Homo sapiens: one gene and its partner. The protein of the gene in region 1 purifies or fractionates together with the protein of each later gene. This does not show direct contact. Each region holds a gene or a part of one and is shown on either strand. Other genes may lie near its edges.

Evidence for each region. The genes of interacting proteins can lie anywhere in the genome.
Region 2: the proteins of FAM184A (region 1) and PCNT purify together in Homo sapiens (affinity purification with mass spectrometry, with the first as the bait; one large-scale study listed by BioGRID). This does not show direct contact.

Annotation. Positions count from the first base shown.
Region 1 is NC_000006.12:119,023,165-119,026,664, reverse strand, and holds part of FAM184A (protein FAM184A), read left to right. Parts: intron 1-1,851; coding exon 1,852-2,706; intron 2,707-3,500.
Region 2 is NC_000021.9:46,327,156-46,330,655, forward strand, and holds part of PCNT (pericentrin), read left to right. Parts: intron 1-3,500. UniProt on the Homo sapiens protein: Integral component of the filamentous matrix of the centrosome involved in the initial establishment of organized microtubule arrays in both mitosis and meiosis. Plays a role, together with DISC1, in the microtubule network formation.

The sequences.
Region 1 (3,500 bases):
TTAACGTCGGTCAGTTGTGTCTAAATCCCGAAGTATAGAGTGCAGAAAAGCCCAGCATGTCCAATCCATAATGAGGCATGTCTGACCCCTCCCTTTCAGTCATGGCCTAAACTATTTTTTCAGGTTTCTTTGGGGTCCACTTGGCTAAGAGGAGGGTCCGTTCAATCGGTTGGGGGCTTAGAATTATATTTTTGGTACACTTGTTATATCACAGATCCTTTCAGTCTTTTATGGCCATTTGACTTGGTGGGCGGATATGACCCAAGGGGATGGGAATAGGAAGTCAGTCAGCTTTCTTGGCTTATAAGCTACCTTTATGAGTAAATGTGTAAATGAAGGAGTCCTGCTTGGGATCTGTGTTACCTTATTGGGAACATAATTTGGAATTTGAAATTAGGGTTTTTTAAAAACAGAATGTGAATAAGTACTTCTGTTCACATTTTTTCCTGTAGACTTTGCAAAAAGGGATAGCATGGCAAGACAGATGGGTTCCTGCCATCTCTCAATCTTTTTACCTTTGGTATGATGGCAGACTAAGCGAGTATATGGACAGGGCCACTGGATCTGGAAGACAAAGCCCTATGTGGAGAAAGTGATGCCCCTGTGTTGAGGCAGCCTTCTTGTTTCTTTTGCAAGCACAACTGCTGTCCCAGACAGTGACAGCCTATCTTTAGCGAGTGGGATCTGGAGTTACTGTGGTATTTGGAGAGCCAGCCAGTCTGCCACAGTTACCTCAGGCTGCATGAATAATTTCTCTACAAAAAATGGCAGCAGTTTTCCATCATAACTGCAGTTTCTGGTATCTGATGCTGGAATTCATTTCTAAAGCCAGAGTAATATCACATTAAAATGAGCAAATCTCCAGACACTGATTTTTAGCTGCTGGATTTTTTGATTGTACAGTGTTTACTTCTTTTCGCTTCCGGGGGAAGAAAGTGGGCTCATCTCAAAGCCTTAAATAACAGTCATGAAAATTTCACCGTGTGACCACAGTGGCATGATGGATGGCATCCGAGGAACAGAGGGAAGGAAGGAGAGTGTTACTGTGCAGGGAATTTGTTGTCATTTGAAATTAAGGTTGGGACATCTCAGTGAAATCATTAAAACCTAGGAACTAAAATGAAAATAAAGACCTGTACTCAAAACTCTGGCTTAAGGAATTGGGTTGCTTGGAGGCAGAGAGAAAATTAGCCAAAGAGTAAAACTACAGCATTTGAAATATGAAGAGAAAAAGTACAAATTGGATTTTATAAAGAGATCACTAGAAACTTGAAGAGAGAAGAGGATCAGCTTTAGAAGCAAACTATAGGGGAATTGGGAAAGGAAAGTTTAAAATTTGAAATATTTAAACAGGCCATTACAAAGATAAAAGGCTTTTGGGAAGACTTAGGGCCTAGGGCTTCTCTTCATGTGAAGCCTCTCGTATCTCTAGGACACCAATATAGGGCAGAGTCTTACTATGAGACTTTTTCTCCTGAACACCCCTTCACAGTCCCCGGTAAGCTAGATTGGGACATATGAGAACTCCTTTCTCTTAGGCCAATTGCCTCCTTTGTCCATTTCCTCTTTGCTGTTTCATTTGTAGTAAAAAATAGTCTTAAATTTGAATGTTTTAAAATTATAACTAAAAAGTCTTTAAATACAAATCTTAAGACTGTGCTAAGATAGAAATTTGCTAAGCAAATCAATCTATGAGTAAAAAAACAATTGCATCAAGATTCCATATTTAACATTAGCTGTAGCCAATATTATGTGCATAGAAAAATATCAATCCAAATGAAAGAATTGACTTCAAGTTAGAAAATAATATGGATTCACAATCCTTCTCCCTTCTTATTCAAAACCATGCAGGTAATATATGCTTTAAACACTAAAAATGATGAGCATGAATCTGCAATTCAAGCCCTCAAAGATGCTCATGAAGAAGAAATTCAACAAATTCTTGCTGAAACAAGAGAAAAAATATTGCAGTATAAAAGCAAAGTAACAGAGGAGCTAGACCTTAGAAGAAAGATTCAAGTTTTAGAATCATCATTAGAAGATCACATAAAAATGAAGCAGCAGGCTTTGACAGAATTTGAAGCTTATAAGCACAGAGTTGAGGACATGCAACTTTGTGCAGAAGCCCAGCATGTCCAACGCATAGTGACCATGTCTAGAGAAGTCGAAGAGATTAGAAGGAAATTTGAAGAAAAATTACGGAGCTTTGGACAACTTCAAGTACAGTTTGAAAAAGACAAACGATTGGCATTGGAAGACTTGCAAGCTGCTCACAGACGGGAGATACAAGAGCTATTGAAGTCACAGCAGGATCACAGTGCCTCAGTAAATAAAGGCCAGGAAAAGGCAGAGGAACTACACAGAATGGAGGTGGAGTCCCTAAACAAAATGCTTGAGGAGCTAAGACTTGAACGGAAGAAACTAATTGAGGATTATGAAGGCAAGTTGAATAAAGCTCAGTCCTTTTATGAACGTGAGCTTGATACTTTGAAAAGGTCACAGCTTTTTACAGCAGAAAGCCTACAGGCCAGCAAAGAAAAGGAAGCTGATCTTAGAAAAGAATTTCAGGGACAAGAAGCAATTTTACGAAAAACTATAGGAAAATTAAAGACAGAGTTACAGATGGTACAGGATGAAGCTGGAAGTCTTCTTGACAAATGCCAAAAGCTTCAGACGGCACTTGCCATAGCAGAGAACAATGTTCAGGTAAGTAAAGAATATTATATTCAACACATGGATTTTTTTTCTTTTAAAAATATTTGTTTTGTAGGCTGGAGAGCAGTCTGGCCCACTTAGAATCAGTGGCTTCACACCACTTAGACTTTTTTTTTTTTTTTTTTTTAACTTTTCCTGCTTTTCCTTTGTGAGAAAAATCAATGACAGGATAATTTGTATTACCCTGTAGTTGTTATTTCAGACTTTCAGATATTAGGGGCCCAAAAAGACAAGCTTAAAACCTTGTCTAATTATTGGCTAGGCACAGTGGTACACACCTGTAATCCCAGCACTTTGGGGGGCCCAGGCAGGAGGATCGCTTCAGGCCAGGTGTTAGAAACCAGCCTGGGTGAGTGAGCTTAGCGAGGTAATACGCTGTTCCTGGGGGGGGGGGCGGACAATATTGCTAATTATTTACAAAAGGATTTTAATATTGGGCTTAAAGTTTAAATACATTTTTTTCTTTTCCTTTCACTAATAATGGTTTGCCTGCTAGCTGATATTTAGAATTTGATCAAGAAATTGCTTGCTTTCTAAACCTGAATTTAATAGGGGTATTGCACAAGTCTGGGGGAAAAAAATGCCGGAAGTCCACAAGTTTTGTTTTGTTGGCTTAGAAAATTTCATAGCCATGTTTTTAATATCTGTGCAACATTAGAATGGATTAGAAAGTGTGGAATAGCCTTTCCTGATTGGGTCATGTTTATGAAAACATCAAGTTATAAATCACTAATACTTACAGATTTAAAAATTGGTATATAGTTTAGTATGACTTCTGAATAAGA
Region 2 (3,500 bases), on another chromosome or scaffold:
GTTCATGCCATTCTCCTGCCTCAGCCTCCCAAGTAGCTGGGACTACAGGCGCCCGCCACCACGCCCGGCTAGTTTTTGTATTTTTAATAGAGGTGGGGTTTCACTGTGTTAGCCAGGATGGTCTCAATCTCCTGACCTCGTGATCTGCCCGCCTCGGCCTCCCAAAGTGCTGGGATTATAGGCATGAGCCACCGTGCCCGGCCTATGGTTTTATTCTTAATAAATTTGGGTTTTCTTTTTCTTTTTTTTTCTTTTGTTTGTTCCAGACAGTGTTTTGCTGTGTTGCCCAGCCTGGAGTGCAGTGGTGTGATCACAGGTCACTGCAGCCTCAAACCCCTGGGCTCAAGTGATCCTCCCTCCTCAGCCTCTTAAAGTGTTGGGATTATAGGCATGAGCCACTGCGCCTGGCCCTGTTTTATCTTTATTATGTAATTTTGAGAAGTTTTGGATTAACTACTTGAAGACAAGTGTCAGTTGTTTGCTTTGTAATGGAAGACTGGGAGTTCTTCGTGTGTGGTCGTGTCAGCCCCTTTGATGGGTGTTTCTTGGGACATTTAAAACATAATATTCCTTCACATAGTTGTAAATGCACCTGCTTGTCACATTTGTCTTTTACCTTTTTACTAAACGTGAGATGAAGAGGGAAGGGGTGAAGGTGTTGCAGACATGGTGTGTTGCTGGAGGAGACTGGGTCTGCTGCTTGAGGCCTTGTGAGCTGCAGGGGCACCCCCATGGGCAGGTGTGGCAGGTGAGTGCACACTGAGTCCTGAAGGGGCTGGCCTTCCGGGCTCCTTGGGGGCCTACAAACCTGCCTGGAGGCGGGCTGTCCTTGGGCCTTTTGTATGAATTATGAACGAGGGCCTTAGGTGTTGAGTGTCCCTGCTGCTGCAGCAGAATGGGTGCAGGCTTTGATGTTTGCTAGGATTTGCTGGAAAACTGGTGGCCAAAGGCAGAATCTGGCTCAAGGTCATAATGTATGTATCCTGCTTTACTTAAAAAATTGAGTTGTTGGCAACAGTTAAAATTTGTGTTATTCTACCTACAAATCCTGAATTTTGCTTTTTATCTCTTGAGTGTTTTTGGTTGTTGGGTTGGTGTGTTTTTTTTTTTTTTCCCGTTTTCTTTTTAAGATACAGTCTCTCTGTTGCCCAGGCTGGAGCGCAGTGACGCGAACTCTGCTCAGTGCAACCTCTGCCTCCCAGGCTGAAGCGATCTTCCTGCCTCAGGCTCCCAAAGTGCCAGGATTACAGGATTTCTGCCACCTTGCTGGGCAGAAAGTTACTTTTGATATATTCTGGTTGCATATGTTTTTTGGTTTTTTTTGAAATGGAGTCTCACTCTTTTGCCCAGGCTGGAGTGCAGTGGTGCAGTCCTGGCTCACTGTAACCTCTGCCTCCTGGGTTCAAGCGATTTTCCTGCGTCAGCCTCCCGTGTAGCTGGGATTGCAGGCGCCTGCCACCAAACCCAGCTAATTTTTGTATTTTTAGTAGAGACAGGGTTTCACCATGTTGGTCAGGCTGGTCTTCAACTCCTGACCTCAAGCAATCCACCCACCTTGGCCTCCCAAAGTGCTGGGATTACAGGCGTGAGCCACTGCACCCGGCCCTCTGGTTGCACATACTTTTTTTTTTTCTTTAAGGCGAAGTCTCACTCTGTCATCCAGGCTGGAGTGCAGCGGCACGCCCTCTGCTTCCTGCAACCTCTGCCTCCCGATTTCAAGCGTTTCTCCTGCATCAGCCTCCCGAGTAGCTGGGATTACAAGTGGGCACCACCATGGCCGGCTAATTTTTGTATTTGTTTGGTTGAGATGGGGTTTCACCACATTGGCCAGGCTGGTCTCGAACTCCTGACCTCGTGATCCACCTGCCTCGGCCTCCCAAAGTGTGGGGATTACAGGCGTGAGCCACTGTGCCTGGCCTGCATAGACGTTTTAAAAGTAGTAAGCTGATAAATATATGTGGGAATCTCAGGATCCTATCAGAAAACCATTCCAAACTTAGCACATTTTGTGGTAAATTGTATTTGGAGACTGATGGGTCGTTAACATTAGAAGGCATGGTATAGACTCCTGATTAAACACTCATACTTTGCTGTTTCATCAGGTAGAGACTCTCTTAGTTTCTAACTCTGCTATTTGATGCATGCCTTCATTCAGGAAGATGATCTGATGAAAAGCATTTTGATTTTTGTTTTCAAAACCAGAAGGGCATATACCAGAAAATTAACAGTGGTGGTCAGAAAGGAATAGAGTTGTTGGTTTTTTCGTTGTTATGGTTTTTGGTATTTCCTACAATAAACACATTAGGTTACTTATATAACATTTTTTTTCATTTTAGAATTAACTATACCACTAATAAAACATGTATTTTGGACATCTTAAAGCAATCTATAAATAACAGGCCCATTACTGGTCCCCTTGACTTAGAGATGCACACGCACACTCACTGCACTTGCTGCATTTTGTGTCACCTCCTCGTGACCACAGTGGACAGGACACTTCACCCTCAAGCGTGGGGTGGTGTGGCAGATGTGAGGAGAGGTCTGCTTTCACAAAACTTGGTGAAACAATGGCAAGATGGCCAAGGTAAAGCATTCTGTTACTTATAACTGTTGCTGTGAGTAGTAACTTAACTGTTTAAAGCAGTATTTTAAAAACCAAAAGCTGGTAAAATGTAAGGATACTTTCTCTAGGAAAAGTATGTGCTCCTGCAGCCAGGATTCTTCATGGAATGAAGGCATGGCAGGGCCTGACTGATTTTCATCTCACATCGTCATCCTGAACTCCTCTGCACAGTTACAGCTTGACATCAGCAGAGACATACCTCCTCTTCCTGTCCATTGGCTCTAAAATGGTGGGCAAAGGTCAGGTACCAGTCAGCTTTTTCCACAGAATTCCTGACATTTTAATAAGCTAAACATGCAGTCATCAGGTATTAACCCCTATTGGATCTTGGACATCAGCTTTTTCCCCCTTTTTTTTGAGATAGGGTCTTGTTTTCTTGACCAGGCTGGAGTGCAGTGGCGCAATCATGGCTCATTCCAGCCTTGACCTCCTGGCCTCAAGTGACCCTCCTGCCTCAGCCTCCCTAGTACCTGGGACTACAGGCATGTGCCACCATACCTGGCTAACTTAAAAAAAAATTTGTAGAGACAGTGTTACACTGTGTTGTCAGGGCTGGTCTCAAACTCCTGTGCTCAAGTAATTCTCCCACCTCGGCCTCCCAAAGTGCTGGAATTATAGGTGTGAGCCATCCCACCTGGCTAAAATTTATTTTCTTTATACATGTATAGGTAAACTAAGTAGTATGTGTAGAATAGAGCCATTGTCTTTCTGCTGTACACTAAGTTAGGAATCAAATTTCTTAAGCCATTTTGTCAATTATGTATATAAAAACCATTGGTGCTTTAGAAGCAGATATTTCATTAACTTTTTTCTGATTATATCATTGTACATCATCAGTTCAGTCTAAAAAGGAGTTTTTTTCATATGTATTATAAAA